Homo sapiens: one gene and its partners. The protein of the gene in region 1 purifies or fractionates together with the protein of each later gene. This does not show direct contact. Each region holds a gene or a part of one and is shown in the gene's direction. Other genes may lie near its edges.

Evidence for each region.
Region 2: the proteins of ZFP91 (region 1) and RSF1 fractionate together in Homo sapiens (co-fractionation; one large-scale study listed by BioGRID). This does not show direct contact.
Region 3: the proteins of ZFP91 (region 1) and E2F2 purify together in Homo sapiens (affinity purification with western blotting; one study listed by BioGRID). This does not show direct contact.
Region 4: the proteins of ZFP91 (region 1) and ADARB1 purify together in Homo sapiens (co-immunoprecipitation; one large-scale study listed by IntAct). This does not show direct contact.

The regions. Positions count from the first base shown.
Region 1 is NC_000011.10:58,613,503-58,617,072, forward strand, and holds part of ZFP91 (E3 ubiquitin-protein ligase ZFP91), read left to right. Parts: intron 1-726; coding exon 727-841; intron 842-3,213; coding exon 3,214-3,313; intron 3,314-3,570. UniProt on the Homo sapiens protein: Atypical E3 ubiquitin-protein ligase that mediates 'Lys-63'-linked ubiquitination of MAP3K14/NIK, leading to stabilize and activate MAP3K14/NIK. It thereby acts as an activator of the non-canonical NF-kappa-B2/NFKB2 pathway.
Region 2 is NC_000011.10:77,814,153-77,817,722, reverse strand, and holds part of RSF1 (remodeling and spacing factor 1), read left to right. Parts: intron 1-3,570. UniProt on the Homo sapiens protein: Regulatory subunit of the ATP-dependent RSF-1 and RSF-5 ISWI chromatin-remodeling complexes, which form ordered nucleosome arrays on chromatin and facilitate access to DNA during DNA-templated processes such as DNA replication, transcription, and repair.
Region 3 is NC_000001.11:23,507,234-23,510,803, reverse strand, and holds part of E2F2 (transcription factor E2F2), read left to right. Parts: intron 1-655; coding exon 656-924; 3' UTR 925-3,570. UniProt on the Homo sapiens protein: Transcription activator that binds DNA cooperatively with DP proteins through the E2 recognition site, 5'-TTTC[CG]CGC-3' found in the promoter region of a number of genes whose products are involved in cell cycle regulation or in DNA replication.
Region 4 is NC_000021.9:45,186,031-45,189,600, forward strand, and holds part of ADARB1 (double-stranded RNA-specific editase 1), read left to right. Parts: intron 1-3,570. UniProt on the Homo sapiens protein: Catalyzes the hydrolytic deamination of adenosine to inosine in double-stranded RNA (dsRNA) referred to as A-to-I RNA editing.

The DNA.
Region 1 (3,570 bases):
ATCTGAACCCACATAGAGAACTTTCGTTGGAATCTTTCAATATTACAGTAATTCCCAATGTGGTGTAAATACAGAGTAACATTTTATTTTAAAGTGATTTAGAAAAAAAGTAAAATTAGAACTCAAACCTGTGATTTCTTGGGTACTGTGTAGAATGAATAAAAGACTTTTAGTTGAGGTTTTGTTTTTATTTTTCTTGAGTAGATTATTATTATTATTTTTGATGAGTAAACGTACCACTTATATTTAGGTCTGGCAGGAAACGTGAAAGTGAAATACTGCTTAGGAAATACCTGTTTGATCTTCAGCAACAAATATAACATGACACGAAGGCCTTCTTCTGGATCGTGGTTCAGTTATAACAATAGCCGCTCCTCCTCTGCTGTGTGCCATTTGCTGCTCTAAAGCACAGTACAATACATAATCTCTTATCCCCATAACAACACTTTGAGATGGTTATTGTTACCTCCATTTTACAAATGAGAACTGGAGCTTGAAATATTTGTCTCCTAAGATTACAAAGGCTAGTGAATGACAGACCCAGATTGGAAACCAGGTCTGTGTATTTCCACCTATGTTCTTAGCCACTTTATTATACTCCCTCACTATCCATGTGTGAAATCTAAGTATTTGGTTTTCCTTCAGTACTTTTGACTTAGCAAAGACAAGTACTTTCAGGAAGCCTTAATTTTTTTTTTTTCGCCCCTTTCACTTTCTCTGTTTTAGCACCACATTAAATACCAGCATTTGCTGAAGAAGAAATATGTATGTCCCCATCCCTCCTGTGGACGACTCTTCAGGCTTCAGAAGCAACTTCTGCGACATGCCAAACATCATACAGGTACTTTTAAAATGTGTTTATCAAGTAGGTAATTGCACTGTGCTTTAGTTTTGCATGTTGGTAATGATAACGTTTTTCTAACATAAGTCTTAAAAGATTCTATAGTCAAGTGCGGGGAAAAGGTGTGAAAATAAAATGTAGTAAGACAAATTTTACAAGGGATGGGCAGACTAGGACTTTTGAATTTTTATCCTTTGACTTCTTGAACTTCTATGACCGGGATAATGATCTTCTATTGAGCATTTATTCTGTATCAACTGTGGACTAAATACGTTATGTATATTATTGCTAATTAGTCTATTCAACACCACTAAATTTGTTTATATTGATCTTATTTTACAGCTAAGAAACTAGAAGCTTGGCAGGATTAAGTAACCTGCCCATGGTCACATAGCTAGTTTTTAGGAGAAGCATAATACTCTGCTGCTATTGAAACTGTGAAGTCTAGCTGTTGAATTTGCATGTAAACTCCCATAGGAACTGTCAAAAAGAGTTGCTGAGTGTCTGCAATATGTATTATAGAATAGACTCAAATTCAATTTATTTGTAACCACTGACCATCTCAGTGCAGTGTACCTAATAGGAACAAATTGGGTGCATACCACTGAGTATGTCCCAGACACTTGATAATTACACATTACCTTCTCAACAGTCTTAGAGAGTAAGTCTAGGAATTCTAGTTGTAGAAATATGTCTCCTGCCCAAGGTCATACTGATAAATGAAATAACTCCTTCATTTACTGTAGGAAAGTTACTTAACTTCTCTTTTCACTTTTCCTTCTCTGTGTATTAAGGATACCAATATCAGTTATTGTAGGGATGAAATGAGATAACATAAAATGCTATTGACTACACAGAGCCTGGCACAATACCAGGATTGAACTTGAATCTTAATCACTCCAAAGTCTACAGTTTTCTTATACCATGTTTCTTCAGAGTTATTTCCACAAGTAACAGTTATTTCTGTTTCTTGATAGGTACTGCAATTTCTCTGTTCCTTCTGCTCCCTGTTAATACTGTTTTATGCCATAGAAAAGTTGTTTCTGACAGCCACTTTAGATTGTTTTAGTTAAATATCAAAAGCGTATGAAAAACTTTTATAAATTCAGTCCATTTCAAATATTTATATTTGGTTAATACAATTTATGATGTTTTACTTTTGCAAATTAGTATATACAGACTTTTTTTTGCAAATGTCATTTATTTAGCAAATAGATGCCCCACACAGGTTTGTCCTGCTATGGAACTGGAAATGTGGACATGACCTGGGAGATGCTAAGAGTTTCCTAAGTTAGAACTGTGCGTTTTTAGACCTTGCTATATAAAGTATGGAATACAGACCAACCAGCATTGACATCATTTGGGTTCTTATTAGAGATACAGAATCTCAGGCCCTGCTTCAGACCTGCTGAATCAGCATATACATTTAATAAGCTATCCAGGTGATCTCTAAGCTGTTTGGAAAGGAGTATAAGATTAAATTGGATATTGTTCACCTTTTAACTTAAATTCATGTTTTCATTCTCATTAATTCTGGTAATTTGAAGCAAAAGGAGTAGAAAATGTAGTGGTCATTAATTCAACAAATATATATAGAGAGCATCTCTTTGTGCACGGGCTTCCCAAACACGGTAAAGAAATGAATAAGTACAATGCTCCTTTTTCCTCCTCATAGATTCCACACCGTGTTACCACATTCATCAGAAATCCTGCATAATGGGGTTGAGGGTGTTGTGAGTGACAAAGGGAGGTAGTTGAAAGGTGCAGAAGATGGGTAGGAGAATAAGGTAAAGTAGTACAGGTGTTATTTACATATATTTGATAGCAGCAACTCCAGTCTTTTGAGAAAAGTTTATCTTGAGTAACATTTTTTAAACCTGAAACAGGGTATGATTACCTTTAGATCAGTTTTCTTCTATACAGTGCCAAGTTCTTGTTTTTTGTTTTTGTTTTGTTTGAATGCCAGATTCTTTCTGTGTAATCATTCAGTTTTCATTGTCTGTGAAAAAAATTGTTTACTCCTTAAAGGAGTAAAATATATGGAAAATATAGTTGTTTACTTGCTAACCACTTGGTATCCAAGACCTGGATTAGTGGTAAAATTGAGATTAGGATTCCATTTCTTATATTTTTATCTAGTTTTTCTGTTTGTTTTTGTTTTTTTTTAAACAGGTCCTTATGCTACTGAATGTTGGATTTTTTTTAAAGCAATACTTTTCTTTTTTAAATTTTGTTTACCCAAAGTGTTTATACATTGAAAACAGCATTGCTTTTACTCTAAATTGCCTGCCCCATCATCTGCTTACTTACTGTAAGGGAAAATATTTACAGGGTATCTAAATAGAACACTAACCACAGTATTTTCTTCATAGATCAAAGGGATTATATCTGTGAATATTGTGCTCGGGCCTTCAAGAGTTCCCACAATCTGGCAGTGCACCGGATGATTCACACTGGCGAGAAGCCATTACAGTGAGTATTATTTACTGGTGAACATCTGGGTGAGAAGGATATATGCCCTACTTGAAGGTTTGCCGCTTTACAAACATATTAGTTGCCACTGCTGTTTACTTTCATCAAATAAATGAGTGGATATTGATTGGGGGCATTAGTTAGTAGCCTTTTTCTTAGTTTCCCTCTGTTTTTCAGGCAAACAGAAGAAGATCAGATTAGTTTTCCATCTAGTAACATTTCCCAATCCTTCAAAAGAAGTATGTTACTGATTATTG
Region 2 (3,570 bases), about 19 Mb from region 1:
CCTATTTGGCAGGCATAGAAACTAAGGCTCAATAGATTAAGGTGCTTAAGAGTCTATAGTTAATGGTAGAATATGATTTCCAACCCAAGTCTGAGTCCAAAGCCACAAAATTATATACCTTGCCATAGTATCATGGTTTCCAAACTGCACCAAGGCACCCTAGAGCATTGTTGCCAACTCCATCTGATAGTTTAAATTTTCAAGTAGGATACAGTGGTAGCCGAAATTTGCTGGTTGCCAGGTGAGCTACTGCCTTGACATACTTCATGGTTTCAAGGTTGTGCCACATTTCTATAGATGATATGTCTTTGTGAAGCTGGTTTTTTAGCGGTTGCTGTGGTAAAATTCACAAAAAAGTCAGTATGCAGCAGGAAAGAGGATAGCAGGGTCCACTCTGATTCCAAGGTTTGAAAAGTTGTGCAGTGCCCAACAGTAATACACATTTCACAAGTAATTATGGTTAAGAATGAAGTAAAAACATTATTTGTTGAAATTTAGCTAGGTTATTTTTTCACATGGCTACTGACTACTTAATAAGTGGAAGTGTTATTATTTCTGGCCTAGGGCTGCTGTGAGAAAATTACTGAGATACTGAGGGTGCCGTGAAGCTAGAATGTTTGAGAACCTTTGCTCTAGAAACTATCATTGAATTTCGGGGCAAGAAAGAAGGGACTATTGTGTCATTGCCTTTATTTTTCAGGAGGAAAATCAAGCTACAGAGAGAGATTTCAAGTGTATACAGCTAACTGTTGGTGTTAGTCAAATTCTTATTTGAAAAGCCCACATATATGCTGAAATTGTCAACAAAAAATTTAGATTTATAGTTGATACTAGTTATAAAAGGATGTGCCAAATGAAGGTGGTGTTTTATCCTCCTCTCCCTGCAGTCTACTTTAGTCCTCCCAATTCTGTGCTTTGTGTGGACTTCCCCAGGTTTCTCCTAACTGGAGGTAGATGATGGTGGTTATGGATAAAGTTGACGTTGACTTTGTGAGATCCCTGACACCCAAGGCTCCTAAGTATCTTTCCTCTCCTGCAGAGAATATTTCTTTTCAAGAGGAAACTATACTACTGTATTCTTTAAAAACAGTCTGGATATTGGTTGAGATGTTACATATATCTAATAAATTTATTAAGGTAAATACAGATAATGTGTTAGGATTCTCATAGTTTATACTATGGTTGGCTGAATTAGTTGTATGATATTAAGTAAGTTGAGCCATTAGTTTTTTGTTTCATTTTTGCATTTAATGATTTGAATTTTAACTCGAAGTGAAAATATCAAAGTTAAAAAAATGCCTTTTTAACTGGAATTGTAACTATAACTTACTATGGTCTCTCTTACTGGTACTGTAACTGATCTGTGTGTAACAATATATTTTTAGGTGCATTTGATAAAGTGGAAAGGTGATTACTGTAACTGGGGCCACATGTGTTGATTTAAACAAAAGATTTTACCAGGTGCATGTACTAGAGGTTGCATGAGTCTACAGTGGTAGACACTGGTAGGGCATACATACATTAATAGTAGTATTGCTGGGGCCAGAGCCTGGTTAGGTTGAAACTTTTTAGTTGTGTCTCTTCTGCCTTTGAAAAAGCAAATATTCTTTAGGGCACTTATTAGATGAAAAGAGAGAAACAGATTTCATCTCCACCATTTTCGATATGTCATAGAGTAAAGTTACGGAGGTTTGGAGGGAGGTTGTTGTCATTGTCCTAGGAACTAGGAGGTAATGGAGACAGAGGGACTTGTCTGGCTAACATGAGCCTGTTAATGCAAACTGGCTTACTTTTTAGTCTTTTAATGATTAAGAAGTTTGCCTTAAATTTAGATGTTTTGTTAAGTTCTTAAACAGACCTCACCGGTAAGAAGGTAAGCAAGCATTTATTAGTGAGGTTATTCACTTAATATATATATTGAGCATCTGCTATGTACAGATGTAGCTACAGTAAATATTGTGGGGATTATTTTTTTAAAAAAACATTAAACATGAGCCTTTTAAAAGAAATTTCTAATCTAGTAAGAAATAGCTAAACTGAGCTTGAAACTAATGACATCATTCAAAGACTTAGTTTTTTTTCTCTGAGATTTTATCAAGTGGAGCAATAGTCCGTGCATTCTAGTCTACAGTTGTAAACTAAAATTATCTAACAATTTTATGGTGAGATGTATGACCACATGCAATATGAAAAAGAATAATTCAGGCCTAAAGTACATGTTAAACTGAATCATGTATTCAAGGAAGACAGTTATGTGTGTTGTTAGATTTAATAAAATTTTACTCTACCTGATGGGTATAGTCTTAATATATTATGCTTGGCTTTTTTTGTTTGTTTTCTGTTTTTATTGTAGAGTAGATCCCACAAAAGGTATTAGGGTATTTTCTATTTTCTTTTAAAAACATTTAATTATATGGGCAATTATAATGTACACTTTGTAATTACATATGTTCTAGCAGGCTTTGATTTTTAATTTGTTTAGCTTTATATGGTCATATCTGTACGTTAGGTTTGCATTAGCTAACTTTTAAACATTTTTGCTCGCTCTTGTACTGTTGGGCACAAGCAGTGCCTCCAGGCAAATTGATGCCTAAACTAGAGAGAACAGCAGGCATTCTCTCCTTACTCTTCCACTTCCCCTTTACTTCCATTTCCTGATCCTCATGTCTGAAGTCACACCACCTTTAGCCATTTGAAGGGGCTGCTTCTTCCATTTTACGCTTTCTTTCACTTGTATGCCATAAAGTGCAGTGCCTGCTAGCTCCAGTGTGCTCTGTATGAGGTTTGCACCAGTGTGTTAGGAAGAAAGGAGGCACTGAAATTAAAAAAAAACCATATTTTGGGGGTTTCCAAGTCACTAAACAATTGAACCACAATAATAGAGGAAACTGACTTAAACAGTATTAAACTGGTATTGCTTCAAACATTATCAAAGGATTTCTGAGGTGAATGCCTACTTTATAAAAATGTATTTTTTCGGCTGGGCACGGTGGCTCATGCCTGTAATCCCAGCACTTAGGGAGGCCCAGGCGGCGGATCACCTGAGGTCAGGAGTTTGAGACCAGCCTGGCGAACATGGTGAAACCCCATCTGTACTAAAAATACAAAAATTAGTCAGACCTGGTGTCAGGCGCCTGTAATCCCAGCTACTCGGGAGACCGAGGCAGGAGAATCGCTTGAACCTGGGAGGCAGAGGTTGCAGTGAGCCAAGATGGTGCCACTGCACTCCAGCCTGGGTGACAGAGCGAGACTCTGTCCTTTTTTTTCCCCCCCAGAGTTAGGGCCTTGAATTCCTGGGCTCAAGAAATCCTCCTGCCCCAACCTCCCGAGTAGTTGGAACTACAGGCACATGCCACCATGCCCAGCTAATTTTTAAAAATTTTTTTGGTAGAGAATGAGGTCTTGCTGTATTGTCCAGGCTGGTCTTGAACTCCTGGACTCAGGTGATACTCCCACCTCGGCCTCCCAAAGTGCTGGGGTTACAGGCATGAGTCACCACTTGTGGCCAAAACTTTTTTTTTTTTTGAGACAGTCTCGCTCTGTGGCCCAGGCTGGAGTGCAGTGGCGCGA
Region 3 (3,570 bases), on another chromosome or scaffold:
CCCCATTCCCCTCTCTGCCCAGCCCCTGACAACCACCCTTCTACTCTCTGTCCCTGCGATTTTGACTAAGTATCTAATGTAAGTGGAATCACACAGTATTTGTTTTTTTGTGATTGGCTTATTTCACATAGTTTAATGTCCTCAGGGTTCATCTATGTTGTAGCATGTGTCAGAATTTCTTTCCTTTTTGGCCGGGCACAGTGGCTCAGGCCTGTAATCCCAACACTTTGGAAGGCCGATCACTTGAGGTCAGGAGTTCGAGACCAGCCTGGCCAACATGGTGAAACCCCATCTCTACTAAAAATACACAAATTAGCTGGGTGTGGTGGTGCATGCCTGTAGTCCAGCTACTCGGGAGGCTCAGGTGGGAGAATCGCTTGAACCTGGGAGGCAGAGGTTGCAGTGAACCAAGATCACAACACTGCACTCTAGCCTGGGTGATAGAGTGAGACCCGGTCTCAAAAAAATAAAAAATACATGAAAAGTTGTAGGGTTGGGTGTAGACTCTGGAAGGTGGATTTTGAGAGCACGACAGTCCACCCAGGCTAAGGAGAGAGAAGAAGGGTGCAGTCATCCAGAGAACCGGAAGTCTGTCCTCGCGTGCTGAGGAGTTGGATGCTAGGGCCAGGCGTAACCTTTGTCTGTTTGTCTCCAGTGCCAGCACCAGCGCCAACCCCCCAGCAGGCCCCACCGCCTCCATCCCTGGTCCCCTTGGAGGCTACTGACAGCCTGCTGGAGCTGCCGCACCCACTCCTGCAGCAGACTGAGGACCAGTTCCTGTCCCCGACCCTGGCGTGCAGCTCCCCTCTGATCAGCTTCTCCCCATCCTTGGACCAGGACGACTACCTGTGGGGCTTGGAGGCGGGTGAGGGCATCAGCGATCTCTTCGACTCCTACGACCTTGGGGACCTGTTGATTAATTGAGTGGCCCTGCCTGCCCCCAGCAGCCTGCCCCCGACTCTACCTCCTCACAGACAGGCTGACAGCCCCTCTGCCTGCACAGGGACATTGGACACTAGGTGCTGCCCTCAGGGCATGGGGTCTCCTCGCCTTTCCTGCCCCAGCCGGCAGAAGCTGTGTGGGGAGATATGAATGGTACGGGTGAGGAGTGGATAAGGGGTGGTCCTCACCTTCCTAATGGAAGCTGGGCCTAGGGAGGCCCATCCAGTCTTCTGACTTCTGACCTCTCACAAGAAGGCTGCAGGTGAGGTGGCCAAGTCCAGGGAAAGGCCCTGCTACCTCCTTTTGAGGGGTAATTAGGACCCTCGACGTACCAAGAAGCACATAATGCCTTTGTATTTATTTCAGGTTGAGTTGTTTGTTTGTCCTCCCTGAGTTTTAGCAGGGAGGTTGTTCTAGTTTTTAGTGAGACCTCTGCAGACAGGCCCATCACTGTCCATGTTCCAGGGCAGGTCTGGGTTTCCAAGGGAGGGGCCCAGGCTACATCCTTGGTTTCCCCACTGTGGTGGGGGCTGGGACTCTGAGGGGCTGTCCAGTCTGCTAGAATGCTAATTGCACTTAGGCCTCATGGTTCTAGTAAACGGCAGCTGTGGGCCCTTTTGCCTCTTCCCCTGTTCTTGGCCTCACATCTCCAGCTGAGCTGCCGGTCTTGGCTTCCTGGTCGCCTCTGTCCCAGAGATGGTCCCAGGGAGCCATCCTAGGGCAGGTAGCACTGAGGCTCCTGTGGAAACAGGAGCCACCTGCTCAGGAGACCCCTTTCCTGAGGAAGTCCTTACCTCTCCCCTTGAGATGTAAAAATGGTCCAGCAGAGACAAGCTCCCGTGGAAAACAGACAGGAGCATGGGGGCAGCTGTCATGGCTGTGGCGGGCACTTTTCCTCAGAGTTTCTGCCTTGCGCTGGTCCAGGAGCCATTTTGCACCAAGGACTTGGTAGGCAGAGGCAGCCCCACTGTAAAGAAGGGTCAGATTAAAACAAAAAACTGCCAAAAGCATCCCCTCTGCCCCCCATGTGGCACTGGCATCATTCTCTGCTTCCCTGGGAGGAATTTTTTCACCATGTTATTGAAGGGGATGGTTCATTAAGGACTCCACCCCTCAGAGCTCACTCAGACCCCAAGGACAGAGGTGACTGGGGCTTGGTGACTTGTTCACTCCTTTTTTCCCAGGTATACTGAAGGGGTGACAGAGAGAGGTCTTCATGGCAGACCAGGCCTTCACAGCTAATGGGGAGAGGAACTCATGTTACCTCTGCAGGCCTGGGGTCCTGAGGGGGTCTTTTGGCTTCAGCCTGTTCCCCCAGAGGCTTGATCATCCCACATTGTCCCTTCAGCTCAGCTGCTCTTCTCCCCCACCCACCCTGGGATGTGGGTGCTCTGGGCTGAACCAAGGCTATGACTTCTGGAGAGAGGCTCAGGGGTTGGTCTGAGAGGCCTGCCATCCACCCCTCAGGGAGCTAGGTTTTCTCAGAGGCTCAGCTGGACAGCACTTTTTAGAAAAGTTTGTAGCATTAAGCTGGTTTAAAATATGAAGTTGGTTTTGTTGGATGGCTCCTGAGCTGACTGACTGATGTCTGAAGTTTGAGACGAGGGATTATTTCAGGGTGGGGCCCAATGTGATCTAATGCCCAGCTGGGGACAATTGTGCCTCATCATTTGCTCAAATTCCTGGGCCCCCAAGTTAGCCCCCTCCCAGGAGTGGTCAGCGGGTCACAGCTGCCCCCACTCTATAAGCAGGGCTAATTGTGTACCCTTTGCAGAAATGCTTTTGGTCTCCTACCCAAATACTCACAAGGGTCTTATCAGACGCCCGTCTTAAAGTCCAGCATGCTCAGGGACCCTGTGTAGGATCTCGTTTGTGGTGAGTGGGCTGCTCTGAGGTCTCCACTGGGCTGCCATTTAGCCATGTGCCATCTCTGAAGTCAGAGGTGTTTGACTCCCATTCCTTGGGCTCTGGAGCTTTCCCCAAGAATTACATCAGAGAAAAGGAAGAAGGGGCCTGCAGGACCCATTGGGAATGAGTTTAATACTGAAGTCTGGAATGTAAGCTCATGCCCTAGAGGCCTCTCCATATGGCTGGTCAGGGGAGCTGCCTTCAGGCTTGTGCCCCGTGTGCTCAGCAGCTGCCTCTGTCCCCCTCTACTGTCCCTTTCACACCTTGCCTGGCCAAGGGGCTAGACCTCCCAGGCTAAGCCTCAGATTCAGTGCAGGACACAAGCTCATGCCCCCGTCTTGCCAGTGACACTTGAAGCCTCCCGACTTCCACAGAGTGCTTCAGGACACATTTTGAGTGGTATTTTCTTTTCTTTTTTTCTTCTTTTTTTTTTTTTTTGAGATGGAGTCTCGCTCTGTTGCCCAGGCTGGAGTGCAGTGGCCTGATCTCGGCTCACTGCAACCTCTGCCTCCCAGGTTCAAGCGATTCTTCTGCCTCAGCCTCCAGAGTAGCTGGGACTATAGACATGCACCACCACGCCCGGCTAATTTTGTATTTTTGGTCGAGACGGGGTTTTGCCATGTTAGTCAGGCTGGTCTTGAACTCCTGACCTCAAGTGATCCACCACCTCGGCCTCCCAAAGTGTTGAGATGACAGGCACGAGCCACCAGGCCCAGCCTG
Region 4 (3,570 bases), on another chromosome or scaffold:
ACTGTGATGTGTTTATTTATTATTTGTCCTTCCAGTCCACCTCCACACGTGCATATGTCAACTTTGTGTGTGTGTGATGTGGGGGAGGGGGGTGTACTCTTGAAAAATACACAATAGAATTATTTGGAGTATTTGTTGCTAATTTACAGAAATGATACTATGCTGTAAATCCTATCTGATTCTTACATTTTCATTCAACCTATATTTTTGGAGCTATTTCTGTTGCTCTAACCAACAGCCAGTTCACTACTGACTTTTGCAAATCTTCCTTCATAGTCATGGGCCATTTCCTTCATGATGGGACACCCATATTTCTTCTAACTCCCTTATACATGTAGTCCTGTATATCCTTCAACTTATGCAAACTCCATCACAATATTATAGACTTTGCTAGAGTTTCTTGGGGCATATATTCAGGAGTTATGCACATATATAACTTCACAGAATAATATCAGATTGCATCCCAGGGCAGTCACACTAGTTGACACTTACACCAATAGTGCATTAAGTTAGCTTCTCCCACATTCTGTAAACTGATATCTTCATAGTTTCAATTTTTATTTCTCTTTATCACTAGGAATGTTGGGCATCTCTTCAATTACATATTAACTGTTCATCTTACACCTTCTTTGAGTTGTCTGTTAATATCATTTGTTCATTTGTCTTTTGAATCTCATGCCTTTTTCCTCTTGATTTTCAGAGTTCCTTTTACAGTTGATATTGTAATCCTTAGCCCTTTGAGAAGATGCAGTGTCTTTTGCAAGTCCTTTCCCCTTTGAGTAGTCTTGCACTCTGTTGAAGATGATTTGAACATATACACAAGGGTTTATTACTGTGCTGTCTGTTCTATTCCATATGTCTATTCTTTATGCCAGTGTCATGCTGTTTTGATTACTGTAGCTTTGTAATATGTTTTGAAATGAGGAAGTTTGAATCCTCCAACTTTATTCTTCTTTTTTCAAAATCCTTTTGGCTATCCAGGGTCTCCTGATATTTCATAAAGATTTTTGGATGAAGTTTTTCAAAAAATGCCATCGTTATTTTGATAGGGATTATGTTGACTCTATAGATTGCTTTGGTTAATATGGACATCTTAACAATATTAAGTCTTCTAACTCATGAACATGCGATATATTTCCATTTATTTGTATCTTCATTTCTTTCAGCAGTGTTTTATAATTTTTATTTTACAAGCCATTCACCCCCTTGGTTAGGCTTATTACTAAGTAATTTATTCTTTTTTGTGCTATTGAAAATTGTTTTCTTAATTCCCTTTTCAGATCATTCATTGTTAGTGCATGGAAATGCAACTGATTTTTGTGTGTTGATTTTGTATCCTATGATTTTGCTGAATGTGTTTATTATTTAAACAGTTTTATGGAATCTTTAGGGTTTTCTACATATAAAATTATGTCATCTGCAAACAGATATAATTTTACTTCTTCCTTTCCATTTTGGATGCCCTTTATTTCTTTTTCATGCCTACTTACTGTGGCTAGAACTTCTAATACTGTGTTAAATAGAAGTGGCAAAAGTGGACATCCTTGCATTGTACCTGATCTTAGAGGAACAGTTTTCAGTCTTTCACCGTTGAGTACAGTATTAACTGTGGTCTTTTCATAAATGTCCTTTATTACGTTGAGTTAGTTTTTTTTCTATTCCTAGTTTGTTGAATGTATTTATTATTATTAAGAAAGGGTGTTAAATCTTGTCAGATGCTTTTTCTGCATCAATTGAGATGATCATGTGGCTTTTGCCCTTCATTCTGTTAATGTAATGTATTAATTGATTTTCATATGTTGAACCATCCTTGCATTCCAGGAGTATCATAATGTATAATCCTTTTAATATGCTATTGAATTTGGTTTGTTGAGAATTTTTGCATCAGTAGTCATCAGAGATACTGGTTTGTAGCTTTTTTTACCCTTCTTCATGTCTTTGGCTTTGATATCAGGGTACTGCTGGCATCATAGAGTGAGCTTGGAAATGTTCTCTTTAGTTTTTTTGGGAGTCTCAGGAGGATTGGTGGTAATTATTCTTAAATGTTTGGTAGAATTCTCTAGTGAAAACATTTGGTCCTGGGCTTTTTTTTTTGAGATGGAGTCTCGCTCTGTCACCCAGGTTAGAGTGCAGTGGCACAATCTTGGCTCACTGCAGCCTCTGCCTCCTGGGTTCAAGTGATTCTCCTGCTTCAGCCTCCCGAGTAGCTGGGATTACAGGTGCCTACCACCATGCCCAGCTAATTTTTGTATTTTTAGTAGAGATAGAGTTTCACCATGTTGGTCAGGCTGATCTTGAATTCCTGACCTCAGGTGATTCACCTGCCTCGGCCTCCCAAAGTGCTGGGATTACAGGCATGAGCCACTGCCCCCAGCCATGGGCTTTTCTTAATTGGGAAATTTTTGATTACTGACCCAATATTCTTATCCATTAATAGTTTGAATGAATTGTTTTTCATATTCATTATTCCTGCTATCATTTGGTTACCATCTGCATGGAATATATTTTTCCATCCTTTCACTTTCGGCCTATGTATCCTTAGATCCAAAATTAGTCTCTTATAGACAGTACATAGTTGAATTGTTTTTTTTTTTTAATCCATTTACCCAATCTGTATCTTTTGATTGGGGAGTTTATTCATTGACATTTAAAGTAATCACTGATAGGGAAGACTTACTGTTGCCATTTTGCTGTTTTCTATATGCTTGTAGCTTTTTGCTTGTTTTTCCCTTATTCTCTTACTGCCTTCCTTTGTGTTTCTTTCATTATTTTTTCTAATGATAGGTGTATTAGTCCATTTCCATTTTCATTGCTGATAAAGACATACCTGAGACTGGGCAATTTACAAAAGAAAGAGGTTTAATGGACTAACAGTTCCACCTGGCTGGGGAGGCCTCACAATCATGGCAGAATGTGAAAGGCACAATTCACATGGCAGCAGACAAAAGAGAGCTAGCTTGTGCAGGGAAACTCCCCTTTATAAAATCATCACATCTCATGATACTTATTCACTATCACAAGAGTAGCATGGTAAAGACCTGCCCCTATGATTCGATTACCTCCCACTGGGTCCCTCCGACAATACATGGGAATTGTGGGAGCTACAATTCAAGATGGGATTTTGGTGGGGACATAGCTAAACCATATCTATAGGATTCTCATTTATTTTATTTTTTCCTTTTGTCTCCGTGGGGTACAAAATCTCATTTCTTTTTGTGTATATTCTACAGGTATTTTCTTTGTGGTTACCATTGCAATTACATAAGACATCTTTAAATTATAGCATTCTATTTTAACTTAAACTTCAATTACATAGTAAAACTTTACTTCTTTACTTCCACCCCTTCACACTTTGTTATTGAAGTCACAAATTACATCTTTATATACTGTATATCCATTAATATACATTGTAGTTGTAATGTTTTTGTCATTTAAATTTTATGCACCAAAATTACAATAGTATTGGTTACTGTATTTGTCCATGTGCCTCCCTTTACAGGAGAACCTTATTTTTCCATACAGCTTAATGTTGCTATTTACTGTCTTTCTATTTCAACTTGAAGGACTCAC